4 separate regions of the Homo sapiens genome follow, and regions 2, 3 and 4 are each linked to region 1. The links come from fine-mapping of genetic effects on gene expression. A gene starts in region 1. Each other region holds a variant in brackets. All regions are shown on one strand. Distances are from middle to middle.

Region 1 (8,116 bases):
TGGGGTCATATGTAAGAAATTATCAACCTCAGGTCTCTGCAGCATCACTGTCAGAACCTCCAATGTCAGCATCTTTGCTACAGGCAACCCCAGAAAAGTCCCTGACATAACCGTCTGCTTCACATGAGAAGCAGATGGAAGGAATAGAGTGTGACTGCGTGCATTGTTTTTCAACGCAGTAATTAAAATCTTGGTGCCCTTCTCAGTAAGATAAGAGAATTTATTTACATTTGGCAACTTACTAGTTAAAAGTTCCTCTCTACTTGGAAACTACACTTGCTTTATTTCCTTGTTTCCATAAAGGAATATTGAAAAATCTGCTTCTTGGTGTCTCAAATGAAGTTAAAATATTTCTGATTGGATATCATCTTGGGCCCACAATTTCTAATAAAATAAAAGGTGCCTGGCCAGGTGTGGTGGCTCACGCCTGTAATACCAGCACTTTGGAGGGCCGAGGTGGGTAGATCATGAGGTCACGAGTTCAAGACCAGCCTGGCCAACATAGTGAAACCCCGTCTCTACTAAAAATACAAAAATTAGCTGGGTGTGGTGGCACACACCTGTAGTCCCAGCTACTCAGGAGGCTGAGGTAGGAGAATCACTTGAACCCAGGAGGCAGAGGTCGCAGTGAGCCAAGATCACGCCATTGCATTCCAGCCTGGGTAACAGAATGAGACTCCATCTCAAAGAAAAAAAAAAGGTGCCAAAATAACTTCCTTAGACACCACTCCCCACATGTTTTGAACCATAGTAGAGACTCAGCTGCAACCATCCCTATCACGGAAGGACAGATGTGAACTCTGAGGCCCAGAACTGCTGGATATTTAGAGACCCACCAGCTCCCGTCCTACCTTGGCAGAAGGCTGGAGGCTGCACAGACTCATCTGGGAAAACTGGCATTTGAGATAAAAACAAGGGTGAGTGAGATCTGCCTGGGTCTGTGATTCTCCATGTCCTGCAATTTTTTCCAGAGCATGACTGAGAAGAAGGTTTATCTGGTGCAGAGAAAAGAGATAGCCTGAGTGTGGTGGACCTGCAGACCACCTAACATTTGGGGAAACTGAGGCAGACTGTCCTTCTCTTCTTCTCTGTGCTCCAGCCTCTCAGGTTTTGCAGTCAGGGGAAGGACCACACTCTCACATTAACTACATCCTTCCCTCACATCTCTCTTAAGCTTCCAGTGCTCAGGCAAGCTTCCTGACTGAGGTGGCCTCTGTTAACCTGCAGCCTCATGACATCTCTCTGCTTTCCTTCCAGCATTTTATCAGTTTGTAATTACGTATTAACTGCCGTGATTACATGATTAGTATGCCTTTCCCATGACACTAAACAGATATTACAGATCCTGGATATATATTTTTTCTTTTTAAAATTGAAGAACACACTAGCCGGGCGCGGTGGCTCATCCCTGTAATCCCAACACTTTGGGAGGCTGAAGTGGGCAGATCACTTGAGGTCAGGAGTTCATGACCAGCCTGGCCAACATGGCGAAATCCGTTCTCTACTAAAAATACAAAAAAAAAAAAAAAAAGTCTGGGCCTGGTGGCTCACACATATAATCCCAGCTACTCAGGAGGCTGAGGCAGGATAATCACTTGAACCCAGGAGATGGAGGTTGCAGTGAGCTGAGATCCCACCATTGCACTCCAGCCTGGGTGACAGAGCAAGACTGTGTCTCAAATAAATAAATAAATAAATAAGCCGGGCATGGTGGCACGCCCCTGTAATCCCAGCTACTCAGGAGGCTGAGGCATGAGAATCTCTTGAACCCAGGAGGCAGAGGTTACAGTGAGCCGAGATCACACCACTGCACTCCAGCCTGGGTGACAGAGCGACACTGTGTCTCAAAAAATAATAATAAAATAAAGTTGAAGAACATACGGAAAATGCACAACTCATAAGATTGCAGCTTAGTGAATATTACAAAGTCAACACACCTGTTGACCATCGTCCAGGTCAAGAAACAGAACAGTCCCGGAACCCCAGAAGGCACTTTCCCTCCTTCCCAAAGCTACCACTCTGCTGACATCCATAGGTTAGTTTTGCCTCCTTTTTAGTTTTTAATCTTAAAACTTAAAAAAAAGAGATATAACTTACATACAGTGAATTTTACCCTTTATATCGTACAGTTCTATAAGTTTTGATAAAAGTAAACCCCAAACTCAATCAAGATACGGAACAGTTCCACAACTCCCTCAAATTCCCTTGTGCCCTAGGTAGTCAACCCCTCCCCCAACCCCCAGCTCTTGAAAATCACTGATTTGTTTCCTTTACCTATAATTTTATATATTTCAGTGTTTTTTTTTTTTTTTTTTTCAGGGTCTCCCTCTGTCTCCCAGGCTGGAGAACAGTGGCACAATCAGGGCTCACTGCAGCCTCGACCTCCCAGGCTCAAGCGATCCTCCCTCCTCAGGACTCCCTCCAGCTCCCCCACCACGAAATAGCTGGGACTACAGATGAATGATGCAGTATTTTGGGGTGACGGGGTATGGGGGTGGGTGTTTGAACTCTGTCACTCAGTGTTTGTGAGATTCATTCATGATGTTGTGTATAACAGTAGTTCACCTGCATTGCTCTATCAATGTGCCATGATTTATTTATATGAATTGGTATGGATATACTACCAAGTATTTATCCATTGTATTGTCGATGGTCATCTGGGTTGTTTCCAGTTTGAGGCTTTTACAAATAATGCTGCTAGAAATATTCTTGCCCGTGCTTTTTTATGCTTATGGGTATGCATCTTCTTTATGGCTTGGTGATACCAGCGTCAGGAAGATGTGCTCCTATGTTAGTTTCCCTAAGTTTCACGCTACTATGGAAAGAGACCACCATTTCTGCTGTCCTTCCCAGCTTCTCCCCCACCTCCCCTTTTCCCTAGTTTATAAGACAGGAGAAAAGAGAGAAAGCAAAAAGTTGGAAAAAAACAGAAGTAAGATAAATAGCTAGACGACCTTGGCGCCACCACCTGGCCCTGGTGGTTAAAATAATAATAATAATATTAACCCCTGACCAAAACTACTGGCGTTATCCGTAAATTCCAGACATCGTATGAGAAAGCACTGTAAAACTTCTTGTTCTGTTAGCTGATGTATGTAGCCCCCAGTCACGTTCCTCACGCTTACTTGATCTATCATGACCCTTTCACGTAGACAGACCCCTTAGCGTTGTAAGCCCTTAAAATGGCTAGGAATTTCTTTTTCAGGGAGCTCGGCTCTTAAGACGCGAGTCTGCCGACGCTCCCGGCCGAATAAAAACCTCTTCCTTCTTTAATCCGGTGTCTGAGGAGTTTTGTCTGCGGCTCCTCCTGCTACACTACCTTTCGCACTTAGAGATACAATTGATCTGGAGTTCAGAGCTGTGTGTGATGGGAGGTAGGGGGCCAAGTTCCCTTTTTTCTTTTCCCTACGTGGATATCCCTTTGACCGAGCACCATTAACCAAAAATAGTTCCTTCCTGTGCTCTGCAGCCCCGCCTCTGAAATAAATTGTCCATACACGTGTATTTTTGTTTCTGGTCTCTATCTTATGTTCCACTGGTCTTCCTACTTTGCTTTTCTTTTTCAAGATTTTTTTCTGGCTGTTCTTGACCCTCTGAGTTTCTACATAGTCTTCAGGCCCCTATCTGGGTGCACTTCCTGGTATCCCAGCATCTGACATGTGCCTGGCGCGCAGCAGGAACTCACGGCTGGCTGTAGCCTGGATGCATCAGAGACGATGGCAAACCCTTCTCACACGTGCCAGGTTCCAGCAACCCACCCTAGCCCCGCAATTCCTCCTCGCTCACTCCCACCCCCTGCAGCGCACCCGCAAACGGCAAGGAGGCGTGCCCGCCGCGGCGCGCGTCACTTTCCCCCGGACCGACTGGCTCCGCCGCGGCTCTCCCCGCCCCCGCCTCCGCCTCCACGTCTTGGGGCCGGGCCGGAAGGCAGATCTCACCGCCTGCTTCCCTCTGCAGCGGTAGCACAAGCTCAGCGATGGCGGCTCCAGAAGGCAGCGGTCTAGGCGAGGACGCCCGGCTGGACCAGGAGACCGCCCAGTGGCTGCGCTGGGACAAGGTGAGGGGCACCAGCAGGCGGGGAGCGCCTGGAGCGGGGCCGGGTGCTCTGCCCTCTCCAGGCGCGGCGCTGCTTGCTCTGCCTGAGCTGCCTTCCCGCCCAGTGCATCCCGCTTCTCCCCCGGGAAGACCCAGGAGCGTACGGCCGCTGCTAGGCTTCCTTCGACCTGGCCGGCATGCGGCACGTTCAGAGTTAGGCCGGGAAGGCTTGTCCCCGGACGAAACCAGCCATCCGGCCGGCCGGACTGCAAGTTCGGAGTAGAGGAGCGAGCCAGGGTGGTGTAAGCGCGGCCAGACCCTGGACGCTGTCTAGTTGAGGGGCGCACGCCTTACTGTCACTCAGACCGCTGGCTCGTCGTCGGTAGTCGGCTGTGCATCCCCATGGACCCAGAATCGCTCCGTCCCGCGTATTCCTTTGGCCGCTGAGACCTTTGCAGAGCAGCGTTCTGGTCCGGTCCTCCCATCCCGAGGGCTTGGTTACAAACGTGGGTTGTCCTCCCGGGTGGGCCCGCCTGGCTTCAGGAGTCCCCCTTAGAACTTTGACTGCCAGGGAGGCACACCTGGGACACAGCACGGTTTTCTCTCTCTTCATTCCGTTTCTTAGAATCAGGAACCCAGCTCTGGACATCACTCCCTCTCCTCTCTATAAACTTGCGTCTCGCCCTTTCGACCTGTTCTGCTTGCTGTTAGGTTTTCTCGGAATGTCCCTCGCTGCTCTCCTGCTGAACTTGTTTCTCCCGTTGTGACTCATATTTTGTGCCTGAACTTAAATGTGGCTTACGTAGAGAGTCAGTCCTTCCTTGGCTCCGAAGCGTTAAATTATTTATCCCTAATATTCACTCTAAACAGTCTGTTATTTTCCTTTATAGCTCTTACTACAAATGGTAAAAACAAAAAACTCCAAAAACACTTGTTTGTAGGTTTGTTTAATGTCTGTCTCCAGGGCCGACTTCAGGGGCGAGAGACCCCTGCAGTCTCACAGGACTCGCGCTCCTTGAAGGGCCCACTGTTGTTTTAATGTCCTGCTGTCCTGTCTTGAAAGTCTTACTGGTAAAACAAGAGGTCACCCACTTTCATTGTGCACTGGACCTCCATAAATTATGTGGCCAGGCCTCTCTATTCTCACTACCTTGGTTTGTAGTGCCTGGCATAGGCATAGTGCATGACACATAGTAGGTCACTGAAATACTTGAATGAACAAAGAAGATTACAAGGTCAGTAGGGGTCAGGTCTTTGTCTTTATTTACCATTCTCTGGCCCCTACAAATAAAATGTCAGCAAATCCCATTTCCAGGATGCTATTGGCAACTCCTTGGGGGCGTTTTTCTTTTCCTGGGAAGATAACCTTGTGATTCACAAGGGAAGAAAAATGTTTCCATTTCTGATAACTTGTAGCTTGCAGAGTACAGAATTCTTTTGAAGTCAGAGTTCATAATGCACTTTCTCTAAGAAGAAGAAGAAAACAATCTAATTTCTACACAGTGTTGCATCTGTGTATAGAAAAATTGTATTTCTCTGGGTAGAGATGAGATGTCCTTTTTTTTTTTTAATCACTTCTCATGTTCTATCCTCTGTTAATTTCTTCTTTGCTTTGAGACTGGCACCTGAGAAGAAGCCCATTCATTCTCCAGTGAACCTCCCACCAGCTAAAAGCATTGCAGCCCTCTAGTCAGACTACCCCCGGCGACTGGCAAGGCGCCCTGGCAGGTGCCCTCTGTCTTTCCACCGTGCCTTCATCCCTGCTCTTTTCTCTGCTGTCAGTTTTGCTCACTGCCAGGGCTGATTCTGATCCTGCTGTACTCTTGACTTGTCATTCTTACCTGTCTGTCTCCTTTGTTTCTCTCAGGCTACTTAGTCTTTCATAGATATCAAAGACCAATTAAGATTTTCCAGACCTACACTATGAACAAGGGAGGATCACTCGATATTGAGTGTGGCAGTGAAGTCCATGTTTTCTGATTCACTCCACTAATATTTATTGAGGCTCTTTTATGAGCCTCTTTTATGTACCTGATCTGAGCCTTTCTTTGGGGCACCTGACAATCTGATAGGTAAGACTGTGTTCTGTAATTAGCATCTGCTGTTTTTCACCAAAAAAGATGGGGTTTACTTGATTCCCATTGAATCTGCCACAATCTGGAAATGTGGGCTTAATTCCAGAAAGCCAAGGTTTTATTGCAGTAGTATTTCAAAGTTTAATTAAATGGCCACGTCCTGCGTGAGTGCTCATCTAAATGGATAATGACTGTAAAACAGGAATATAAAGTCCTTCCTCTGTTGTTTTCCTGAATTCATAACTTAAAAGTCTCATATGAAACTAATGTGATTGTCATTATTTTTCTCCAACCATAACATTTTCTGCAACTACCATACAAAAAAAAAATAGGGCAATGTATAATGAACTTAAATGAATCATGTTAGCGTCTATTTGAAGCAGTTAATGTTATAGAAAAGGCACTAGATTAATGTTTATCTTGCAATTTAAGCAAGTCACCCAATCTCTGAGGCTTCCCCATCTATAAAATTGGGTTTCTGTTATTTGTCTACTTCTTGGAGATGTTACAATATTCAAACTTGACCAGGTATGTGAATGCCTGGTATGAATTATAAAACATTACAAAAGTAAGGTTTTGACTTAAGTTGTGTAATCTATCACTCTGGAAAATTTGAGGGCATTAGGGAAAAAAATGGACATTTAATCACAACTAAATGCCAGGTAGAGAAAGATATTTTACATTAATTTGAAGTAAACCACCTTAAAACCTTAAAAATCGTGTAAGGGAGGTTCTAGATTATTCCCATTTTGCAAATAGGGAAACAGAATTTGAGAACTGGAATAATCTGCGCAAGCACCTAGAGTTGGCAAGTGGTATTCTGGGATTCCATTCTGGGGGTTAGACTCATATGCTAAAATCTCTACTTTGATTTCTCCAAAGGTGCTTACCTTGACAGGAAAGAAAAGAACACTTACATTATAATGTCAAACTGACTTCATATTTCAGATTTCAAAAGCATCAGAAAATTGAAAGGTCTACATATATATATATACATATATATATATTTTCTATAGATTAGAATGATTGTGAATTTTTTTACATTTCTGATTTTTCATTCACTTGTCTGGCTGTGTCTATACATTTTTGTTTTTCAGAATTCCTTAACTTTGGAGGCAGTGAAACGACTAATAGCAGAAGGTAATAAAGAAGAACTACGAAAATGTTTTGGGGCCCGAATGGAGTTTGGGACAGCTGGCCTCCGAGCTGCTATGGGACCTGGAATTTCTCGTATGAATGACTTGACCATCATCCAGACTACACAGGTACCATGTTTTTTATAATTCTTAGTAACTCAATGTATCCCCTAGCTCATTTTCTATTTGGCAGACCTAATTTATTCTAATTATAGACATGTCTTACCAGCTTGGCTAGACACAGGAAGTCACCACCATTTACTCCATAAAGTAAGGCTTGCACAATAGGTCGAAGTAGCACTTATTCAGGACTCATATAGCCATCCATCCATTCATTCATTCATTTAACACACTTATTGAGTACATACCATGTGCCAGCACTGGGGATATAAGAATGACTCGAACAAACAGATTCTCTCATGGAGCTTTCATTCCAGTATAAATGCACCAACTAAGCTGACAACTTTTAAGGTCCTGTAATTTTTGCCATGATTACATAGCAAGTGCTAAAAAGCTTTTCTAACTGCCGGAGTTACCAAGAGCCTGTTCTCCTTTGTTTTATAGTATGGATTGAGTCTGTCTTAATTTGTGAATATTTTTGTCAGAATCTAGACCCAGCTTTTAGGAAGGAGATAATTTGACAAAACAGAAGTGCTTCTACTGGGTATTGGCAGTACTGTTTATGAGGGAAATGAAATAGAACAGATTATTCACATCAGTATTTCTTCACCTTAGACCTGTTGATGATGAATGTCACTTTAATTGTGGGAAAAGAAAGGCTAGAAAAAATTGCCTAATAGTGATTACATGTGCCTCACGTATACATCCCAGTGTAAAAGGCAGAGCTGGGCATGTTGTAACAAAACTCCA
Region 2 (8,116 bases), 25 kb after region 1:
GGATGACCCAGGTCCAGCCAGAATGACAGAAAAACCCTTGTCCTAAACTGTCAATATAAATGAACAGAAAGGAGAACTAGCTATAGAAATTTGAAACTCACATTGTACCAAACGCTTTTAGCTATTAATTTAGTAAAAACTATTATGCATTAGATTTATTTATATTCATTTGTATATTCTCTGCAACACTAACACATGATTTAACTAATCAAAGCATAATCGCTCAGGTTCTGCTCTTTTATTGTCAGATTTGGCAGACTTGTCTTTCCGTAGCTTTTTATTTTAAGAAAGATTTTCTTTCATTTATCAAGTATTAATTGCATGTCTATTACTCAGTGACTCTAAAAGAAATGGATGGCACTGACCTTAGCCTACAGCAGCTTAGATAGATTTAGTTAAGTAATCACACACAAGAGTAGAGGCCAGATGTCAAAATGAATAATGTAACTAACAAATACTATTGGGATTCAGAGAAGAAAGAGATATGTATTGACTAGGACAATTAGAAACAATTTCATGAGCTGGAAGGAGTTTCATGACTCTAGTGATTGAGCACCATGTGGCCAGGAGGGAAAATCTTGCAGGTTCTTCAGCAAATACTTCTTGAAGGCCTGCTATGGGCTAGGCACTGGGCTAAATTCCTAAACATAAGGTATTAATGAGAAATGTGCATACACGCAACACTGTACAACCTCTAATATGCAATAGCCAGGATTCATACTCATATGTGGTTTGACACAGTATTGTATAGATGTATGTATGACGTGTGTTTCTGCAGGATACATGTGCTGCCCTTTTGTTCTGGACAAAGATGGAGTCAGTGCCGCTGTCATAAGTGCAGAGTTGGCTAGCTTCCTAGCAACCAAGAATTTGTCTTTGTCTCAGCAACTAAAGGCCATTTATGTGGAGTAAGTTGTTATTGACTCTGTTGGATTGAAATAATATTTTGAAATGTTCTATTATATACTTATGCATGAGATACTAATATCCTTTCTAATGCTCTTATTTTGGTGATGAATTCTATTTCTTATAAAAATTAAATAAGGCTGGGCACAGTGGCTCATGCCTGTAATCCCAGCACTTTGGGAGGCTGAGGCGGGTGGATCACCTGAGGTCAGGAGTTCGAGACCAGCCTGTCCAACATGGTGAAACCCCGTCTCCACTAAACATACAAAAATTAGCTGGTTATGGTGGTGGGCACCTGTAATCCCAGCTACTCAGGAGGCTGAGGCAGGAGAATTGCTTGAACCTGGGAGGCAGAGGTTGCAGTGAGCCGAGATCGCGCCATTGCACTCCAGCCTGGGTGACAAGAGCTAAACTCTGTCTCAAAAAAAAAAAAAAAAAATTTAAAAAAACTAAAGAGATCACCTTTTCCTTTTGATATGTAACAAGTTAGTAATTACTATTCCCGATCGCATTAATTCTTAACAAATGACAACATGAAAGAATGTGATTTTAAGTGTCCAGTATCAAAAAAGATTGAATGTCTTCATAATACATCTATTCATTTTTTTGTAGCACTTACTCAACTCTGCCTTGCCAGTGTAGTGCGTAAGCATCCAAAGAGAATACAGAAATGCGTGTGACCTGGCTCTCTGTGCAAATGCAGGCGGAAGACCAGGCAGTCATTTGGTGATCCCTGGGGTAGATTGTTGGACCTCTTTTTTTTTTTTTTTTTTTTTTTTTTGAGACGGGGTCTTGCTCTGTCACCAGGCTGGAGTGCAGTGGTGTGATCTCGGCTTACTGCAACCTCTGCCTCCTGGGTTCAAGCAATTCTCCTACCTCAGCCTCCCGGGTAACTGGGATTATAGGTGTCCCCACACCTGGCTGATTTTTGTACTTTTAGTAGAGTTAGGGGTTTCACCATATTGGCCAGGCTGGTCTCAAACGCCTAACCTCAGGTGATCCACCCACCTTGGCCTCCCAAAGTGCTGGGATTACAGGCGTGAGCCACTGTGCCTGGCCTAGACCTCTGTTTTAATGGTCTTTTAAAAATTATTCCTTTGGCGTCAGTTTTGGCTGTTACATTTATTTTATTATTTATTTTATTTTATTTTATTTTTTGAGATGGAGTCTCTCGTTGCCCAGGCTAGAGTGCAATGGCACAATCTTGGCTCACTGAATCCTCCACCTCCTGGGTTCAAGCGATTCTCCTGCTGCAGCCCTCTGGAGTAGCTGGGACTACAGGTGCCTGTCACCATACCCGGCTAATTTTTGTATTTTTAGTAAAGACGAGGTTTCTCAATGTTGGCCAGGTTGGTCTCATACTCCTGACCTCAGGTGATCTGCCCGCCTCGGCCTCACAAAGTGCTGGGATTACAGGCGTGACCCACCACACCCAGCCATATTTATTTTAGAATACACTGGTTGGTACATGTTCTGTGTCCACCCTACAAAATTATTTGTTCCTCATGTGCATGAATTTGTATTTGTTTGATAGGTATGGCTACCATATTACTAAAGCTTCCTATTTTATCTGCCATGATCAAGAAACCATTAAGAAATTATTTGAAAACCTCAGAAACTACGATGGAAAAAATAATTATCCAAAAGCTTGTGGCAAATTTGAAATTTCTGCCATTAGGGACCTTACAACTGGCTATGATGATAGCCAACCTGATAAAAAAGCTGTAAGTAATGTCTTCTCTTTTCAACTAACCTCTTTTCTATTTACCTTTTAAAATAATTTGAATAAATTATTTAACCATACAATTAATTGAAGCTGATTTTAGGCACTTAGGCGTGATTATAAATAAGCTATAAAAAATATATGGAAGCCGGATGTGGTGGCTCATGCCTATAATTCCAGCACTTTGGGAGGTTGAGGTGGGCAAATCACTTGAGATCAGGAGTTCGAGACCAGCCTGGCCAACACGGCAAAACCCGGTCTCTATTAAAAAATACAAAAATTAGCTGGGCGTGGTAAGTTAAAAACCGCAGGCTAGAACTGAAAGAGACTCTACTAGGCTGGGAGCGGTGGCTCACACCTGTAATCCCAGCACTTTGGGAGGCCGAGGCAGGTGGATCACTTGAGGTCAGGAGTTCAAGACCAGCCTGGCCAACATGGTGAAACCCCATCTCTACTAAAAATACAAAAATTAGCCAGGTGTGGTGGCTCATACCTATAATCCCAGCTACTCAGGAGCGTGAAGCAGGAGAACTGCTTGAACCCAGGAGGCAGAAGTTGCAGTGAGCTGAGATTGCACCACTACACTCTAGCCTGGGTGACAGAGCAAGACTTCATCTCAAAAAAAAAAAAAAAAAAAGAGGAACTAGTCATCAAAGCCTGTGTGGTCATTTCGCACCTTAGGCAATAAGTGATCAGAAGTGTGGAACCTGTCTGTGGACACAGAGCTTAGTTGGTGGTGGTCCAGGGAGAATCTGGGTTTTCTATCTCAGGATCCAGCATTCTCTCCCTGTCAGGAGTTCTCACACTTGCAGGAGCATCAGTAACCAAGAAGGCTGGGGAAACAGAGTGCTGGAGCCCACACCTGGACTTTCCGATTCAGTAGGTCTGGGGTAGGAGCCAAAAATGTTCATTTCTAACAAGGTCCCAGGTGGTACTGATGCAACTGGTCCTCACTTTGAGAACCACTGTTTGTTTTCTAGTTAGTGTACTCTGTTCTCTGAGTGTATTGGAGCTGTTGGCTGTAAAGCCTGAGTTTGCATTCTTTACACCAAGCAGATCTTTCACTGGAGACAAAAGAAGACACAAAGGTAGCAGAAGAGTGTTGCTTTCTATGTTGGGGTTGGGGGAGGAAAGTTAAGAATATCCTTATGAGATGTTAGGCACGTTCTTTGATATTTTCTTTGTTCTATTTTTCATTTTCATCTGCACACAGCATATTTTTAAAATAGAAATAGTATGAAAACGCTTACGATGAAACGTGGCAGTCCCACCCCTGCCACCTCATTGCCATGTCACCAAGACTAGATTTGTAAATCATGTGCTCATATAGTGATGTTTTGATATACCAGTTTTACAATTTGTTGACTTTCTATTTTTGAGATAAAGATTTAGTTCTTACGCTTTCTACATTCAATAATTCTCTTCTCCCCATCCTCACAGTACGTTTATGCCACAGCTTTTGGTTAAATCAGATTCCGTGCTTTTGTTATTATGACTAGTAACTGCTGTTGCCTGCTAGCTAAGTAGTGTATTTTGATTAGGTTTCCCTAATTTGTATAGAGAATTGTATTTCCTGTACCTTTTGTTTGTTT[G/T]TTTTCTTTTTTTTTGGAGACAGGGTCTTGCTGTGTGACTTAGTCACTTAGGCTGGAGTGAATGGCATGATCACAGCTCCCTGTAGCTTTGACCTCCCAGGTTCAAGTGATCCTCCCACCTCACCCTCCTGAGTAGCTAGGACCAAGGGTATGCCATCATGCCCAGCTCTTTTTTTTTTTTTTTTTTTTTTTTTTGGAGGGACGAGTCTCTCCCTAGGTTTCCCAGGCAGGTCTCAAGTGATCCTCCTGCCTTAGCCTCCCAAAGTACTGGGATTACAGGCGTAAGCTACTGCGCCTGCCTTAATTCATGTAGTAATAGTTGCTTTGTTCTTCCATTTGCCTGGATTTCTATGTCCTGTCAGCAGTTTTTCCCAAATCCTTCAAATGCCTCTCAGTAGGGTTTTCCTGGTCCATGTCCAATGGCCGCCCTCCTGGTTGGGTGCACAGCTGTCATCCTGGGAATGCCCTTCTCCAGGATTGAGTCCCTTGCTCCTAGACCTCATGGCTTCCTCTTTCTATATTTATTTTCCTAGATCACATCCTCTAATAGCTTTCTGAGAACAAGTAATTGGGTGGTAAGTTTTTGGTGGCATTTAAGTCCGAAAATGTCTTATTCTGTCCTCACACTTCACTGACTCACAGTTTTGAAAGCATTGCTCCATTATTGTTGGGCTTCCAGCATTGCTATTGAGCCTCCAATCCTTCCTTTTTCAGCAGATAGTTAAGGCCTACTGTATGCTGTATGTAAGGTTATTGATGCCATACTTATTCAGTCCTTTCCATGCAACTTGTTTTGTTTGTTTTTTTCCTCTGGGAAGATTTTAGGAACTTTTCTCTAAACTTCAGGTTCTAAAATTTCACAGTGATATGCTATAGTATGGGTCCCTTTTTATTCATGTTTCTGGATACTTGGTCTGTAGAATCATTTATTTTAGTTCTGAGAAGTTTTCTTGATTATGTATCAGGAAAGGGAGCTAATTGGTTATTTTTTAAAATAATCACCTCCCCTGCATTTTCAGTTCTTTGTTTCTTGAAGAGCTCTTAGATGCTGGCTTTCCAAGACTGATGTTCTACTTTTCTTGTTTCTTTCTTTCTTCTTCTGTTTTTCTGGGAGATTTCCTTAGCTTTAGCTTTCAGTGCCTCTGTTGGCTGTTTCAGTTATAACTAATTTATTAAAAATAGTGTCCTGTTGAAACAGTGTCTTGCTCTTTCACCCAAGCTGGAGTGCAGTGACATGATCATAGCTCACTGCAGCCTTGATCTCCTGGGCTCAAGCAATCCTCCTGCTTCAGCCTCCTGAGTAGCTGGGACTACAGGTGTGTGCCGCCATGCCCAGCTAAGGTTTTTTAGTTTAGTAGAGACAGGATCTTGCTGTGTTGCCCAGGGTGATATTCCTTTTTTTTTTTTTTTTTTTTTTTAATGTAAACAATATCTTACCTCTCTAAGGATTATAGACCTAATTATAGTTTTTTAAAAATATATGTCTTCTTTTTCTGCTACATTCTCTTTATTTCCACCAAGTTCTTTTTATTCTGTTTGTTTTGGACTTTGTCTTTTACATGATGTCTTTCCCCAAAAGTCTGATGATCCTTAATTTTCCTTTGGGCACCTAAGAACTGATTGGAAGCTCTGTGTACATATGCAGATCAAATGACATACTTCACTCAGAGGATATTGGTAGCAAGTTAACTTTATAAGGGGATCCCCCTGATTTAATGAGACCTTAATCACCTACCCAAGGATGATAAGATGAGATGCCAAGGCCCTGGAGGCATGACTGGGGCGGAGCTGGGGGTGTCAGCCTGAGGACTTCTACTTGATCCCTCTGTTTTCATCATGCCCTGCCCAGGTTCCCCAACTCCTGAATGTTTCTGATTTAATCTCCAGAGAATTTAAACCATCTCCTGCAGAAATGGAGAAGAGGTGGTTCTGTGACGGTGTGGGCTCAGGGCAAGGAACCGGGATGGTCTAAGAACTTCTTTCAAACCCTGTTCCTGCTTTCCACCCCTGCCTCACATCTGCCTTTTGCAGTACCTGGTGCCTCTGGTTCTTGAGCTTGGCCAGGATTTTGCAGAGCACCTTGCCTCAGTTCTCATCCATGTCTCCTTCCGCAGGCACTCAGATTTCATTCTCTGGGTCCCACCAGACCAGTTCTGTGCCTCCATCTGTTTTCTGACTTGTGCGATCGGTTGGCAGCCCCATCAGCTGCTACCTCCTCTTTGTCTCTTTGCCCGTGTGTTTATGCTATTCAAAGTACCTCTATTTTAATGGAGTTTTGGGACCTATCAAATATAAATATACCATTTCCTCAAGACCATTTTTCTTTTCTAACCAGTAAATTTATATGGCATTTATTTTTTCTTACAGAAGCTTCCTTTTTTTTCTCTTTTTCTTTTCTTTTTTGGAGGCATAGTTTCACTCTGTTACCCAGGCTGGAGTGCAGTGGCGCAATCTCGGCTCACTGCAACCTCCACCTCCCGGGTTCAAGTGACTCTCCTGCATCAGCTTCCTGAGTAGCTGAGATTACAGGCACCCGCCACCATGCCTGGCTAATTTTTGTATTTTTAGTAGAGACGGGGTTTTGCCATGTTGGCCAGGCTTGTCTCCAACTCCTGGCCTCATGTGATCCGCCCTCCTCGGCCTCCCAAAGTGCAAAGTGCTGGTATTACAGGCATGAGCCACCGCGCCCAGCCTGGAAGCTTTATTTAAAAAAAAAAAACAAAAAAAACTCCTTATGGAATTTTCTTTGCAAAGATTCACTTTATAACAGTAAATATAATCTAGTTTGAGGTTTTTTTTTGTGGTGTATTAATCTGTTTAAGTCAATATCTTGTGAAATGATGTGTTTAAATAAAACTTTAATAACTTCAATAGAACTAGGGAAGTAAAAGCTAATACACAAAGTTACTTAATTTTCTTTATTTAAAATTAATTTAGTTATGTTAATTCACAAATAAAAATTGTATACATTTATGATGTACAATCCGATGTTTTAAAATGTATACATTGTGATAGCTAAAATCAAGTTAATTAGAATGTGTTACCTCACATATTGATCATGTATTTGTAGTGAGAACACTTAAAATCTACTCTCTTAGCAATTTTCAAGTATACAATGCATCATTATTAACTATAGTCACCGTATTGTACAATAGATCTCTTGAACTTCTCTTCTGTCTAGCTGAAACTTTAGGCCCTTTGACAAGCATCTCCCCAAACTCCCCTCCCTTATCCCCACCCTTCCCCAGTCAGCCCCTGGTAACCACTATTCTGCTCTCTGCCTCTGTGAGTTCAACCTTTTCGGATTCCACATGTAGGTGAGATCATGCGGTATTTGTCTTTCTATGCCTGGCTTATTTCACTCAACATAATGTCTTCCAGGTTCTTCCATATTGTTGCAAATGACAGGATTTCCTTCTCTTTTAAGGCTGAATAGTATTCCATATAGTAGACCACATATTCATAAATTACTATCGTTTAGTATTTCATTCATGTGGAGTACATTTTCTGATTTCCTCCAGAATGTTTTTCTTTTCTAACCAATAGATTTGTTTGGCATTTATTTTCTTACTTATGCAAGAGAAGATATTGGTTAGGCCAGAATGTTACTATTTAAATTTATAATGTGTGCATTAATTCCTAGGTTCTTCCCACTAGTAAAAGCAGCCAAATGATCACCTTCACCTTTGCTAATGGAGGCGTGGCCACCATGCGCACCAGTGGGACAGAGCCCAAAATCAAGTACTATGCAGAGCTGTGTGCCCCACCTGGGAACAGGTATGATGTGGATGGCAGCTGGTGTGATTTTTACTCCCCAGACTTCCTAACTGGTTCTATTCAAATGCCAAGTGAAATGTTCCATCTTTCTAATAGGTAATTTAATTAGAAATGCTGT
Region 3 (8,116 bases), 44 kb before region 1:
CCAGTGTTGGTGATGGGGCCTAGTGGGAGGTGCTGGGCCATGGGGATGGATCCTTCATGAATGGCTTGGTGCTTTCCTCAAGGTAATGAGTGGTAGTAAGTTCAGCTGAGATCTTGTTGTATAAAAGAGTGTGGCATCTCCCCACTCTCTCTCTCTCTCTCGCACCCTCTCTCTTCATGTGACACACTTGCTTTCCCTTCACCTTCTTCCATGAGTAAAAGCTTCCTGAGGCCTCCCCTGAAGCAAAGCAGATGCTGATGCCATGCTTCTACAGCCTGCAGAGCCATGAGACAAATAAACTTCTTTTTTAAAAACAAATTACCCAGTCTCTGGTATTCCTTTATAGAAACACAAAATGGACTAACACACTCTCTATTCTTAATGGGGAGAAAAGCTAGAATTGCAGTGAAATGAAATGTTTGTGAAGAAAATCATGACTGACTTCCATTTAAAAATGTTTTTTACATTTAAAAATATGTGAAGTTCAGCTGGGCACGGTGGCTCATGCCTGTAATCCTAGCACTTTGGGAGGCCAAGGCAGGTGTATTACCTGAGGTCAAGAGTTCAAGTCCAGCCTGACCAACATGGCGACACCCCCTCTCTATTAAAAATACAAAAATTAGCCAGGCATGATGGCGTGCGACTGTAATCTCAGCTACTCAAGAGGCTGAGGCAGGAGAATTTCTTGAACCCAGGAAGCAGAGGCTGCAGTGAGCCAAGATCATGCCACTGCACTCCAGCCTGTGTGACAGAACAAGGCTCTGTCTCAAAAAACTAAAAAATAAAAAAAAATGTGAAATTCAATGTGCCTGATGATGCTGCCAGAAAAGAGAAAGCTAGCCTGAGTAGACCTTCATTCAGTTCTACCCTTTCTTAAAGTATGTCCTGTGGAAGCTTAATGCTGAATTAAAGTCTCCTAGAAACCTTATTAGGGGATTTGGGTCAGGGACAATAGTTGTTCTTCATGACCTTCTTTTGTAACCTCCTAAAGAATGCTGTCTATCATCTCACTAGGTTCACAAGGCTTGTTTTGTCCTTTGTAGTATCTCCCATGGCCCATCCAAGGGAAAAGGAAGTTCTTGCTCAAAGAAAGTTTGTGCACTATGCAAATGCAGTGATATCATTTTTCATCAGGCTGAACTAAACAGCACACAACAAAACCAAGAACCTACACCACTGCTTGTGCACTTACATGCTAACATAAACTGTACAGATTTATAGTCCCTGATGTGTACAACATCCCTTATGTATTAGTCTGTTCTCATGCTGCTAATAAAGATATACCTGAGACTGGGTAATTTATAAAGGAAAGAGGTTTAATGGACTCACGTTCCTTAGGGCTGGGGAGGCCTCAGGAAACTTACAGTCATGGCAGAAGGAGAAGCAAACACGTCCTTCTTCACATGGCGGCAGCCAGGAGAAATACAGAGTAAAGGGGGGAAAAACCCCTTGTAAAACCATCAGATCTTGTGAGAACTCACTTACTATCATGTGAACAGCATGAAGATAACCACCCCCATGGTTCAATTACCACCCACTGAGTCCATCCCACAACACAGGGGGATTATGGGATCTACAGTTCAAGATGAGATTTCGGTGGGGACACAGCCAAACCATATTACCTTACATATGTGAATTATCTTGTTTGCTTCTGAACAGAACAGTGGTAACTACAATTGCTCTACATTTTACATTTAGGTGGATCTTAAGGTGACAAGATTTTACTCCTTTTCACAATTTTTGTGATGGGACAATAAGCAGGAGAGGAGAAAAAGGCAAAGGAGCATGTAAAAATAAATGACCTGTTTTTTACTATGTCCCCTTTCTCAGTAGAATATGAAAACTTCCTGTGTGGGTCCTTTTATGGCTGCTTCTAGATTTTCAAAGCTGTCCCAGCTGAGACGCAGGCAAAGAGAAGAAAGAGGCTGGGCTGAAAACCACTGCAATTTCCTGGGGAGAGAGTGCCCCCGGATGGGCCATTGATCTTCATTGTTCCTGCTAGACAAATAGACTTCTCAACATCAAATAAAACTTTACTTGATGAAGATTTGTTTGGAAGGATGCTTTGTTTATATTTCTTTACCCTTTTAGATATTACCTACAATTTCTGAGCACATGTGCCAAGATAAAAGAACTTAACAAGCAAAGAAAAAGGGCGTTTTTTTCTATAGGGAGAGGTTCTGAAAAATCCAAGAACATAAGACGGGTTTGTATACTGGCTGAACAACATGGGGTGGCTAAACTGGTTGTGTTTCTAAATTCTTTCAAACAGGCAGAGTTACTAATTTGTCTTATCAGATGCTCAGCATGATAAATCTAAACCAAATTATCCTATCACATGAAGTACTCTTCCCTTAAGAATCAATTAAGCATTGGAAAAATGAGAATTCTTACTTCTATGCAGAAATGATACTGTGTGGTTAGCTAAAACTAGGACTGTGTTAGCAAAACACAGACTGTATTAGGACTATGATTTGTGTACAAATCACAAAACTGATCATTCCAAAGAGAATGATAGAACAAGGGTAGCCTGGGAGTTTCTGAACTAGCATTGTAACACAATGAGTCAGTTGGTGTATCCCTCAATTCGGCTGGATTAATTTTTTTTTTTTTTTCTTTTGAGACGGAGTCTCGCTCTGTCTCCCAGGCTGGAGTGCAGTGGCGCGATCTCGGCTCACTGCAAGCTCCGCCTCCTGGGTTCACACCATTCTCTTGCCTCAGCCTCACAAGCAGCTGGGACTACAGGCGCCCGCCACCACGCCTGGCTAATTTTTTGTATTTTTAGTAGAGACGGGTTTTCACTGTGTTAGCCAGGATGGTCTCGATCTCCTGACCTTGTGATCTGCCCGCCTCAGCCTCCCAAAGTGCTGGGATTACAGGTGTGAGCCACTGCGCCCGGCCTCAGCTGGATTACTTTATCCCCAATACTGTCACCCTACTAGTTCCTGTCTTGCAGTGAAAAATAGCAGATCTGTGAGTCCAGGAGCTGGCTCAGGTTGGGGTTCACTGCTAGAATCACCCAGGTTGCTTTTGATAATGAACTCTATCTTCAGTCTGCAAAGTAGGTCGTGGGAGAACAAGTGAATTGAATATTGTTCATGAACTTTTATCATTTAATAGGGCTTCACTATAGAAAAAGTAAAAAATACAGGTAAGAATAAAGTAAAAGTTTTTTTACTTTTAAAAACTTTCCATTACCAAGAAGAAATCCTCTCCACTTTTTAGTGTGCGTTATATCCATCTGGATTTTTCTTTATAGTGTAAGTATGGTGAAAGCATGTGACTCAAGCTTTGATTCCAAAGTCAGCTAATGTGTTAGTCCATTTTCATGCTGCTGATAAACACATACCCAAGACTGGGTAATTTATAAAGAAAAAGAGGTTTGGCCAGACACGGTGGCTCACACCTGTAATCCCAGTAATTTGGGAGACTGAGGCAGGTGGATCACCTGAGTTCGGGAGTTCAAGACCAGCCTGACCAACATGGAGAAACTCCATCTCTACCAAAAATACAAAATTAGCTGGACGTGGTGGTGCATGCCTGTAATCCTACCTACTCAGGAGGCTGAGGCAGGAGAATTGCTTGAACCCAGGAGGTGGAGGTTGTGGTGAGCCAAGATCGCACCATCGCACTCCAGCCTGAGCAACAAGAGCAAAACTCCATCTCAAAAAAAAAGAAAAAGGTTTAATGAACTCACAGTTTCACGTGGCTGGGGAGGTTTTACAATCATGGCAGAAAGAGAAAGGCATGTTTTACATGGCAGCAAGCAAGAGAGAATGAGAGCCAAGCAAAAGGGGTTTCCCCTTATAAAATCATCAGATCTCATGAGACTTATTCACTATGATGAGGACAGTATGGGGGAAACTACCCCCATGATTCAATTATCTCCCACCAGGTCCCTCCCACAACACATGGGAATTATAGGTGCTACAAATCAAGAGGGGATTTGGGTGGGAACACAGCCAAACCATATCAGCTAATAAGGAGGGGAAACTTACAAATTATCACTGAACTGTCCTTAAATCACTCATAAGATTCAGTATACACAGTTTTGTGTTTATAACCCTGGAGAGTGCTTCTTATATATAAGAAGTTTTGGGAATTGCTCAACTAGAATAAAAGAAGAAACAAAAGTAATATCTTAAAATAACCTGGGAGACAGGGAAAATTCCAAGTAGTTCTGCTTCCTGGCAGTATTTAATCTGTTATGTTTTAATATTAAGCAGCTATAGCCTTAATACCTATTAACAGATGTATTTAATGGATGGATTAAACAAGATAATGGAGTCACACCTTACTGGAATTAAATTCTAAAGTTGGTGCCTAAGAAACACCTAGGGTGAAATTCCTCTCTCATTCTCTTCTTTCTCTGCGTGTGTGTGTGTGTGCATGCGTGTGCACGTGCATGCACACACACACACATACATGTGTAAAACTCAAATCATACATGCTGTTTTGGAGCCCACTTTTTCCACTTAACAAGATATTTAACCATCTTTCCACAACAATGAAATATTCTAAAACACGTTTTCTATGTATGGTTACTATTCAAAAATGTTTTCACATAATTACATTTTTGTTGCTTGTTTTGGAGAATGTGACTTATCTATATGAACTTTACAAATAATGTGCACCATAAGTTACTGGATGGGCCCTCTTTGGTATCTGAAAATCCAAAGAAACTACATGCCAAGGACCTGAAGCTGAAGGGCCTGTGTTTCTGTAGTGAGCTCTCAGAAGCAAAGGAGGGGACATCACAACCCAAGCATTAAAATGACTAATTCTTTTAACTTTTAAGTTCAAGGGTACATGTGCAGAATGTGCAGGTTTATTACACAGGTAAATGTGTGTCATG[A/C]AGTCGGGGGGCAGTTTGTTGTACAGATTATTTCATCACCCAGGTGTTAAGCCTAGTACCCCTTAGTTATTTTTCTTCATCCTCTCCCTCCTCCCACCTTCCACCTTCCAATAGGCCCCAGTGTGTGTTGTTCCCCTCTATGTGTCCTTATCATTTAGCTCCCACTTATAAGTGAGAACATGCGGTATTTGGTTTTCTGTTCCTGCATTACTTTGCTAAGGATAATGACCTCCAGCTCTATCCATGATGATGACTAATTCTGTTGTTAATTTCTCACCATGGTCCAAGACATTTTGTTTTCCAGCCATTTATTAGTTATACTCTTTCCCCATGAAAGTGATTTTGCAGCCTTTAAAGTACAGGGCAATTGCTAGACAAAAACAAGCGAAATGAGGATGGACTAGAAGGAGAAAAACTGAAGGCAGACAGACAAGACATCTATGGAAATTTCAGGAATGGCAAGGGAGACATTAGTGATAGGGACGGGGGCAGAGAAATTCTAGGCAAACAGGCAGGTCCCCAGTGAAACCCCATCCTCAAGCCAAAAAGTCTGCAACTGTGGCCCAAAATGAGAATTTTTATCCCTGTTTTATCCCTGTTTTCCCACTCAAATGTTGCCTTTTTCTAAACTACCCATGGCCCCACCCCACCCCATCCTGTGCCTATAAAAGTTCCAGCCAGTAGGCAGGAACTATGGCTAGATGTTGGAGAGAAGTGGCTTGTCTTCAGAGAGACAACTTGTTGGTGTAACTTCAGAGAAGAATCTGGCCAGAGACAGCTGGACCTCAGGGGAAGATTACCTTCCCTCACTATCCTCTTTTCAGCCCTCCTTCCTGCTAAGAGTCACTTTCATTGGCAATAAAATCCCCCTGCATTTACCATCCTTCAATTCGTTCATGCAACTTCATTTTTCCCGGATGCCAGATAAGAGCTTGGGAGACACAAGCGTGGATTCAAAAGGCTGTCACACTGTCCCTTTGCTTTCACAGGTGGAGGGCAGCTGCCTCACATGAAAAGGCAAAGGGCCTGAGCTGTTAACTGAGCTGTTAACACTTAAGCCATCCAAAGATGGCAGAGCTAAAAGAGCTCTGTAACACTCCCTCTGGGGCTTTGGGGGTTGCAGACACCCCTGCCTGGATGCTGCTGTGGGGCCTGCATGGAGTTTGCTCCTGCTGGCGCTAAAGCATCCAGCCAGTTCCTGCACCTTCTCACCTGTCTGCTCCCTCCTACAAGGGCTGGAATGCAGCAGGTCTGAGTGAGTGGAGTGTGATCCCACCAGTGCCAAAGGAGCTGATTCCAGCACTCATCTACTCCAGTTGCCACACTCGTTTGATCATGTGCTCCCTCTCATGAAGAGTTGAGAGTGGTAGGCTGAGTAAATGAAGCACACCTGTCACAAGTCCCTCGAAGGGGTCAGGGAAATATCCTGCTTCACTAGTAGTGATGTTAAAGAAAGGACTGCGTGAAAGTGTCAAATTTGAAGACTGTAGGAGAGGAAGAATTAGCAGGGGTTGGTGATTAACTAAAGATCAGTAGAAGCTGGACATCAACCATGAAATCTCAGTGTTGTGACACATCCCATCCTTCCAATCTGCAGTCTGTGGAAGCCAAAAGCTCTCACCTGGATTCTGTCCATTCTCAAGGGCTGCATTTCCCTGGATTCTTCTCCTCTGTGACCTCTTTCTTTCTCAAGAGCTGCATCTGTTCACACCAGACAAACTCCCAGTGGAAAACTCATCACTCTCTTTGATTTCCCAAACTAGCTCCTACACAGCCCACATTTATGAATTCCATAAATATGGCAGATATTATAGGCTTGGTTGATCCAGCACCATGCCTTCTCCCTTGCCTGCATCTATTATAGAAGATATAAAAGCTAAATTATTTCCTTTCATCCCTTATATTCAGGGAGGCCACGTGATGCAAGTAGAAACTTGGTGAGGATATTTCTGGGAAAGAACTAACTATCTTTAAGTTAGTTAATTCTTAAAGAAGAACATGGCCATTGTTGGTACCTTTTTCCTCATTTTCCTTCTCCCTGCCTTGAAATATAAACGTAATGTGTGAGCCCATAGCAACTACCCTAAGACCATAATGTGGCAAGCATGAGCACAAAAGCCAACAGAACAAGGATGGTAAAGTGGAAATATAGACAGTGTCTGGGTCCCTGATGGCATCGTTGAACAGCTGAATCCATGCCAACTGCTACATAGCTCTGATTTTAAATAAACTCCCATTGATGTAAGCGACCATGAGTCTAGTATTCTATTATTTGCAGCCTAATATGTTCCTAACAAACAAAGAACTCTTTGTTGTGATATTTTGGAGGTCCCAGGGAAGGTGAAAATTATGCAACTTTTCACCATCTTGCTTATCCCCTACTAATATGGTTTGGCTGTGTCCCCACCCAAATCTTATCTTGAATTCCCACATGTTGTGAGAGGATCCCGGTGGGAGGCAATTGAATCATGGGGGCAAATCTTTCCCATGATGTTCTCATGACCGTGAATAAGTCTCATGAGATCTGATGGTTTCAAAAAGGGAAATTCCCTTTCACAAGCTCCTCTCTTTGCCTGCTGCCATCCTTGTAAGATGTGACTTGCTCCTCCTTGCCTTCCACCATGATTGTGAGGCTTCCTTAGCCACATGGAACTGTAAGTCCAATAAACCTCTTTCTTTTGTAAATTGCCCAGTCTCAGGTATGTCTTTATCAGCAGCATGAAAATGGACTAATACAGTAAATTGGTACCAATAGACTGGGGCACTGCTGAAAAGATACCCAAAAATGTGAAAGTGACTTTGGAACTGGGTAACAGGCAGAGGTTGGAACAGTTTGGAGGGCTCAGAAGAAGATAGGAAAATGTGGGAAAGTTTGGAACTTCATTGAGACTTGTTGAATGGCTTTAACCAAAAGCCTGATAGCGGCATGGACAATAAGGTCCAGGCTGAGTTGGTCTCACATAGAGATGAGGGACTTGTTAAGAAATGGAGCAAAGGCGACTCTTGTTATGTTTTAGCAGAGACTGGGCATTTTGCCCTTGCCCTAGAGATTTCTGGAACTTTGAAATTGAGAGAGATGATTTAGGGTATCTGGTGGAAGAAATTTCTAAGCAGCAAAGCATTCAAGATATGACTTGGGTGTTGTTAAAGGCATTGAGTTTTAAAAGGGAAACAGAGCATAAAAGTTCAGAAATTTGCAGCCTGACAATGCAACAGAAAATAAAATCCCATTTTCTGAGAGGAAATTCAAGCCTGCTGCAA
Region 4 (8,116 bases), 33 kb before region 1:
GAATGAACAAGGACAGCTTAAAGATTAGAAGCAAGATGGAATTGGTTAGGTCTGATCTCTATCACTGTCATTTCCTCAGTTATAATTTTTGCAAAGGTGGTTTCAATTCAACTGAGCATGCTCCCAGTATCTTGCACCTCCACTTTGAGATGATACTTAAACCCCAGAGAAAAGCCATCTGCCTCAACCAGCTGCACCTAAGACCCTGCCCTGAGCTTGATCAGCCATGAAGTGCTCACCAGATGTCATGCCAGGCCCCTATTGACTCCGATAGGGATGGCACCATACCCTAGAGGGCAAATAAGAGACCTGGAGACAATGAATGAGACATAGGGTTTATCAGGGAAACTCCATACAGGAATGGCCCAGTGGTGGCAAGCTGGACAGTAGCACCATTACTGTTTATAAAAAGCATGCAGTTTATACAGCATTTTCACTTAGGACCCTCCTCTCAGCAACCTCCATTTAACCCAAAACAAAGGGCCTCAATCCCTTCAATCTCTGGGTTGGCCACTCCTGGATTCCTTAGCTTGGAACTCCAAACACACATGCTTCTTAGACCCTAAAATCATTCTCAGGGTATGTTTAAATTATTGTTGTAAGGTGCATCTGCCATATACCAGGTAAAAACATGAGAATCTGTACCACACTGGGCTCAGAAAGTTCGTGTGTTCAGCCAGCAGAGGTCGGCTGACAAGACCATCTCAACCTTGGCTTGGAAAAGCTCAAGACAGTTAGTGGCTTCCTCAGAAATATGAATCTGTGTGTTCTCTACCAAGCAATAATTGAGATTACTAGGAATAATTGAGAATGTACTTCCTGATGAATGAGGGAGTACAGGGAACTTCACCTTAAAATTTGGCTCCTTGGTGTAAGGAATGAATTAAAGTCCCTTAGAGCTCAGCAAAAGCTGGAAGAGACTTTTTCTCTAGCTACATAAAGACAGGACAGACCCACCAAGGAGAATAATGGTTTTTCCTTTCCTTCCCTGTTATCTCATTATCTTTTGCAGAAAAGAAGATCACAAATGTAACCGCACCTGAACAGACTCTTTCACAAGATAATAACTGTCTCTCAGGCTCATTCTGTTTTCAAAGAGAACCATTTACAAGTTAATCTCCACTCCCATCCATTCATTCTCCCTAGTAATCATGTACTGCCCCTAAACAGAATTACCTATATTCCCCATCTCTCCCCCAGCCTCTGAAATAAGGCTATATAAGTATCTGGGCCCCACTGGGATTTGGGGGTGATATGGTTTGTGTGTTTCCCCACCCAAATCTCATCTTGAATTGTAATTCCCACAATTCCTATGTGTTGTGGGAGGGACCTGGTGGGAGATTATTGAATCATGGGGGCGGGTCCTTCCAGTGCTGTTCTCATAATAGTGAATAAGTCTCATGAGATCTGATGATACTAAAAAAGGGAGTTTCCCTACACAAGCTCTCTCTTCTCTTGTCTGCCACCATGTGAGATGTGCCTTTCACGTTCTGCCATGATTGTGGGGCCTCCCTAGGCAAGTGGAACTGTAAGTCCAATAAACCTCTTTCTTTTGTAAATTACCCAGTCTCGTGTAGGTCTTTATCAGCAGCTTCAAAATAGACCAATACAGCAAATTGGTACCAGCAGAGTGGGGCACTGCTAAAAAGATATCCAAAAATGTGGAAGCAACTTTGGAACTGGGTAACAGACAGAGGTTGGAACAGTTTGGAGGGATGAGAAGAAGATGGGAAAATGTGGGAAAGTTTGGAACTTCCTAGAGACTTGTTGAATGGTTGAATGGCTTTGACCAAAATGCTGATAATGATATGGACAATGAATTCCAGGCTGAGGTGGTCTCAGCTGGAATAAGGAACTTGTTAGGAACTGGAGCAAAGGTGACTCTTGTTATGTTTTAGCAAAGAGACTGGTGGCATTTTGCCCCTGCCCTAGCAATTTGTGGAACTTTGAACTTGAGAGAGATGATTTAGGGTATCTGATAGAAGAAATTTCTAGCAGCAAAGCATTCAAGAGGTGACTTGGGTGCTGTGAACAGCATTCGGTTTTGAAAGGGAAACAGAGCATAAAAGTTCAGAAAATTTGCAGCCTGATAATGTGATAGAAAAGAAAATCCCATGTTCTGAGGAGAAATTCAAGCCTGCTGCAGAAATTTGCGTAAGTAACGAGGAGCTGAAGATTAATCCCCAAGACAATGAGGAAAATGTCTCCAGGGCATGTCAGAGGTCTTCATGGCAGCCAAGAAGGAGGCCCAGAGGGCTATGAGGAAAAAGTGGTTTCGTGGCTGGACCCAGGGTCCCCTTGCTGTGTGCAGCCTAGGGACTTGGTGCCCTGCGTCCCAGCCACTCCAGCCATGGATGAAATGTGCCAATGTAGAGCTCAGGCCATGGCTTCAGAAGGTGCAAGCCTTCAACCTTGCCAGCTTCCATGTGGTGTTGAGCCTACCCGTGCACAGAAGTCAATAACTGGGTTTGGGAACCTCCACCTAGATTTCAGAGGATGTATGGAAATGCCTGGATGCCCAAGCAGAAGGTTGCTGCAGGGTCAGCATCTCATGGTGAATGCAGTGCAGAAGGGAAATATGGTGTCAGAACCCCCACACAGAGTCCTTACTGGTGCACCACCTAGTGAGGCTGTGAGAAGAGGGCCACCATCCTCCAGACCCCAGAATGATAGATCCACTTACAGTTTGCACCATGTGCTTGGAAAAGCCACAGACACTCAACACCAGCCCGTGAATGCAGCTGGGAGGGAGGCTGTACCCTGCAAAGCCACAGGCATGGAGCTGCCCAATATGATGGGAACCCACCTCTTGTGTCAGCATGACATGGATGTCAGACATGGAGTCAAAGGATATCATTTTGGAGCTTTAAGATTTGACTGCCTTGCTGGATTTTGGACTTGCATGGGGCCTGTAGGCCCTTGGTTTTGGCCAGTTTTTCCCATTTGGAATGGCTGTATTTACCCAATGCCTATACTCCATTGTATCTAGAAAGTCACTAACCTGCTTTTGATTTTACAGGCTCATAGGCAGAAAGGACTTGCCTTGTCTCAGATGAGACTTTGGATTGTGGACTTTTTAGTTAATGCCGAAATGAGTTAAGACTTCGGGGGACTGTTGGGAAGGCCTGACTGATTTTGAAATGTGAGGACATGAGATTTTGGAGGGGCCAGGGGTGGAATGATATGGTTTGGCTGTGTCCGCACCTAAATCTCATCTTGAATTGTAACTCCCACAATTCCCATGTAGTATGGGAGGGACCCAGTGGGAGTTAATCGAATTATGGGGGTGGATATTTCCCATGCTGTTCTCATGATAATGAAAAGTCTCACGAGATCTGTTGGTTTTACAAATGGGAGTTTCCCTGCACAAGTTCTCTCTCTCTCTTTGCCTACCACCATCCATGTAAGACATGACTAGCTCCTCCTTGCCTTTCACCCTCTCTCATAACTGTGAGGCCTCCCCAGCCACGTGGGGATTGAAGGGCAGAGAAGGGCAGAGAAGGGCAAAGGTAAGTCCAATAAACGTCTTTCTTTTGTAAATTGCCCAGTCTAAGGTATTTCTTCATCAGCAGTGTGAAAATGGACTAATACAGGGGTAATCACTGGTTCTTCCCTGTGTGCACATTAATAGACTGGTATCCCATTTCTCCTATTAATCTCCTTTTGTGAGTTGGATGTTCAACAAACCTTCAAGGGGTGAAACAGAAGATTTCCAT[C/T]GGCCCCAGTCTTCCCAAAGGCACAGAGGTTAGGGGTTTCTCAAATATAGTTTGGTGGGCAAAGGATTAGGGTTGGGGGGCATGTTGATTTGTTGGGTCAGAGATGAAATCATAGGGAATGTCACTTTATGTATTTATATATATGTTTTTCCTCTCTGTGTGAACCTCACATGTATGATTTTTGTTAAATATATTCAGTACTTACTTTAAAAAAAAAATACATTCTTTTGTCTAAACTAGTGGTTCTCAAGAGGTGATTTTGTGTCCTGCTGCCAGGGGACATTTGGCAATGTATGGAGACATTTTTGGTTGCCACCACTGGGCTGTTGGGGGTAGGTGAGGTTCTACTGTCATCTAGTGGGTAGAGGCCATGGATGCTCCTAAACATTCTGCAGTGAATAGGACAGTCTCAAACATCAAAGAATTATCCTGTCCAAAGTGCCAGTAGTGCTGAGGTTGAGACACCTGCTCAAACTCAAAGACCAGTAAAAATTTAGAAAGAGAGAGAGAAAAGTAGAGTGCTTTTGAGTCCCCTTAAACTCAGGCTTAGCTCTTAGTTGTATTGATGTAATTATAATTTATTTGCTGTGTTATTTTTTGGCAGTGTAACCACCCAACCACCCACTGCTCACACAAAATTGACTCACTGAGACCATAGCATTGCAGTAAAGAAAGAGTTTAATTGGCAGAGCTGGCCATGCCATATAGGAGATTAGGGGTTTTTAAAATGCAGTTTGATGGGCAGGGGAGTAGGGTAGGGGGCATGCTGATTGGTTGGATAGGAGATGAAATCATAGGGAATTGAAGCTGTCTTACTGTGCTGAGTCAGTTCCTGGAGCCGGGGTGGGGTGAGACAGGACTTGTTGGCAGGTCCAGGTGGAGCCATCTGGACATCTCCAAAAGGCAATCTTAGCTTCTACAATAGTGATGTTATTTATATTTGCAAGAGTAATTGGGGAAGTTTCAAATCTTATGACCTCCGGAATAATGCCTTGTAATTATTTCTAATTCAAACCCCTCTTATCCTCCTAACTTGGTGGTCTTTCATTAGTTTTACAAGAACAGCTTAGTTTTGGAGAAAGGCTATTATCATTTAAACTATAAACTAAATTTCTCTCTAAGTTAGCTTGGCCCACTCCCAGGAGCAAATACAGTCAACCTATGAAGCTAGAAGCAAGATTAGAGTCAGCTATGTCAGATTTCTCTTACTTTCATAATTTTGCAAAGGTGGCTTCAACAGTGCCTGTAATTACTTTCATTGTAAAGTAACATATTTTTATAACCCAATGACAGTAACTAGATGTTTGATATCATCTGTCTATATTCTCTTACCTACCTTCTTTTATATCACATTATTTTAGTCTGAAAGCAAAATAATCCCTTAACATCCTTTCTAAAGTAAAATGATTTATCCAGTTTTGTTTTTTTTTCTCTATCCCAATCTTAGCATTTCACCTAGGAAAGACTACAGACGTGTTAATCCATGCACATGATTGTTGGGACCATAACAGTTAGATGGCCATCATTGTGTTGCTGCAATTAACCTCTTTCCTCCAGGCTTACATGCTTACCACTTCTATGCTTCACAGAGAAATCATGTTCTCTGGGTACCTATACTCATCATTTCCTCCACTGATCCTTGTTATTTCCAATTCAACCAGTCTCATCTATGCTTCCCTTTTTGGAGCTCTGTTGCTTCTTAAAAGGAAGTTTTTATTGAATTTGTCTTCAATCAGCTCTCTCCCTTCAGAATTCTGTGTATCTGCTCTCTTCCACTTAGTGGAAGTGGTACTTGGTCAAATACATGTCGGTGATGGCGCTCACATTTTGGTTCATACAGCTATTAAACATGTATTTTCTCTCCAACTAGAGAAGCTCCTTTTGGGCAGGGACAATGTCTCACTTTTCATGACATCCTGAAGCACCAGGTATAGGACTCAAACAAAAAGGCATCCATTGACTATTGAATTCATGAGTAAAATGTAGATAATAAGTTTATATATTTGAGATGACATGAGCATATGACTTTATGTCCTCAGAGTCCTAATTTGGCCACCATGAATTGAAGGAAAAGCATCTCATTTCCATGACAAAATCTTTCCTACAATAAAAATTGTAAGTAAGCTTGGATACATTTCACATGACTAACTCATGACCAAAAAGAAACTTGATCTGTGACCTTCAGTAACACACTCGATTTAGAAAATGTGAATGGGCTTAATGATTAGTGACGGTTGCTAAAAATTAAGGCTTTAAAAAATCTTATTTATGTGAATACTAAAGCTGCACACACCTGGAGGTATTAGTTGATGTCCTTGTTGACCTAAAAGGAGGAGGCTGAGGCACAAAATATAATTTAAAGAATTTACTTGAGCCAAAGGGAAGACAGCTGTTGAGACGCTCTTCCCAGTTGCACTGGGGAGTGCTCTGTTAGCTTTTGTTGTAAGCAGGTTTCTAAAGGCAAAGGGAACAAGGAATGGTCTGATGTAAAGTTCTTTGACAGGAATTCTCACTGGTTTTCAGAGAATAACATTGCTTAATGATTGGCCATGCACTGTGGGACTGCAGGATATAGTGTTATAGTGTCTGGCATATGGCATTTGATGGCTACTTGGCATCAGTTAGTCTAGAGCCCACATGGCAAGTGGCTTCAAGAGATAATTATTTAGTTCAAGGGGGAGTGATGTGACTGCTGTTTCATTCAGTGCCTTTTGGGGCCTGATAATTTAAAGGGGCTCTCATTCTTCAGATAAAAATTTTCTTTCCTTCCTTTTTCCTCCACACCATTTTGAACAAACTTTCTGTTTTCTTAGTTATCACTTTCCTCCTAATAGTCTTTAGAGCAAACAGAGCAAGTAAGCCAACCAGAAAAGCCACAGAAAACACACTTTCCATATACCTACCGTCTATTTTCCTCTTAGACGCATACTTGATCCTACGACAAAAGACTTGTCTCCAAATAAATCGATTTAAAATATGTGAAACATTATATCTTTTAAAAAGTGACGTTTCATAATAAAACTATGTCTACTATGCATTTGCTTTGAGTTTTTATAACTTTCCAAAAAAGTTTTCCTCTTGCCGGTAAATACGTATCCTATTTCTACAGCTCTGGGATGGTATCTATTTATTATACATTATTTATCTCTAAAATGTTTTACTAAGCCAAAAAGGAGAAGAACACATCATACGGAACAGTACCCTGTGTAAGGAGGGAAGTGTCAGAGACTCCATAGTGTACTCCCAGTGTGACCAGTGAGAGCTACTGCCCTGCCCTGAGTTGAGATGTTCTGAAATAGCTATTGCATTTCTATGTGCCCTCTTTTTCTGCCATTATTAGCAAACAGTTTTCATCCATTGGCTGACAAAACTGGAGTAATGGATAGTGCTGGACCAGCAGTAAAGAAACAAGGAATATCAGCCTGAATGTGGGAATGCAAGTTTTAGTGCAATTCAACAGCTATCAAGGAAAAGGTCAAGGAGGTCTAGGATAAGGGGCGGCAGGCAAGCGGGCATCAGTGGAGGCCCTTTGACTTTTTGAAGAGCTTCAGAAACAACACTATAGCCTGGAAAGGCTGATCTACACTGGAAGACATGGTAGCTCCTGGCAAGGAATGACCCCAGCCGAGAAGAGCAACTGCTAATGCGTGATGAAGGATGGATGAGGCCTGGGATGCAATGGGCTCATAAAGCACTGACTACCTGGAGTCCGTGAGAGCTCTCATTTCCAGTAGGAAGTTTCACTGTCTCCAGGGCAAATGAAGGATATGTGGACATTATACATTTTTTAAAAAATTTAAGTGCAAGCATTTTTGTTCTCCCCATTTATTTGTTCATTCATTCGTTTATTCAACTAACATCCATTATGTGTTCTTTGCTGCACGCTGAAGATACAAAAAGCATTAAGAAAGGAACTCTGTTTGTAAGAATCTCACAGTTCCTTAGGAGCTGGGTGTGGGATGTTCTTTGCCCCTCTAGATCTATTCTCTGCCCTTCGCCACCTTGCCCAGTGGCTCCTGGAAGCTGACTTTTCTGGAAAGTATCAACAGGGCTCCCTTGCCTTCCAGCTTCAGTTGGGCTCAGCCACTAGGAAGCACAAGAGGAGAGGAAGGGTAGCAGGAGAGGAAGGGCGGCAGAAGAGGAAAGTGAAGCATTGCCCTGGCTTCCTTCATGCCTGCTAAGGCTTAACAATGGCTGCACTTCCCTAAAGCCACAACTGCTGAGAAGCAGCCTGCTTCCAGAACTACAACCAGCTCTTCTGTTCCTGGCTTTTCCAGGCCCAGGGCTGACAGTGGCCCCCCACAGTGTAGCCTGGAAGTGCTTTATCACTCTTGGTTCTCCTTGACCTCTACATGGCCCCTCCATTAAGCTTTCTTTCATTTATTTCCTGTATGATGACA

The links.
Region 2: its variant is fine-mapped to the expression of PGM2 in whole blood (TOPMed, PIP above 0.99).
Region 3: its variant is fine-mapped to the expression of PGM2 in whole blood (INTERVAL, PIP above 0.99).
Region 4: its variant is fine-mapped to the expression of PGM2 in monocytes after R848 (Quach 2016, PIP 0.95).

The regions. Positions count from the first base shown.
Region 1 is chr4:37,822,757-37,830,872 of GRCh38, forward strand. It overlaps PGM2 (phosphoglucomutase 2), which reads left to right and starts at 3,930. Exons shown (of 14, transcript NM_018290.4): 1 at 3,930-4,057; 2 at 7,208-7,375. The coding sequence starts at 3,977. RefSeq lists enhancers at 2,399-2,568, 3,601-4,102, 4,103-4,602 and a silencer at 3,813-4,112.
Region 2 is chr4:37,847,744-37,855,859 of GRCh38, forward strand. PGM2 (phosphoglucomutase 2) reads left to right here. Exons shown (of 14, transcript NM_018290.4): 11 at 779-908; 12 at 2,441-2,630; 13 at 7,865-7,998. Among named protein-coding and RNA genes, the nearest start is that of PGM2, 25 kb to the left of the region's middle. The variant G/T (reference allele first, on the strand shown) is at 4,222.
Region 3 is chr4:37,779,048-37,787,163 of GRCh38, forward strand. No RefSeq gene overlaps it. Among named protein-coding and RNA genes, the nearest start is that of PGM2, 44 kb to the right of the region's middle. The variant A/C (reference allele first, on the strand shown) is at 4,856.
Region 4 is chr4:37,789,684-37,797,799 of GRCh38, forward strand. No RefSeq gene overlaps it. Among named protein-coding and RNA genes, the nearest start is that of PGM2, 33 kb to the right of the region's middle. The variant C/T (reference allele first, on the strand shown) is at 3,717.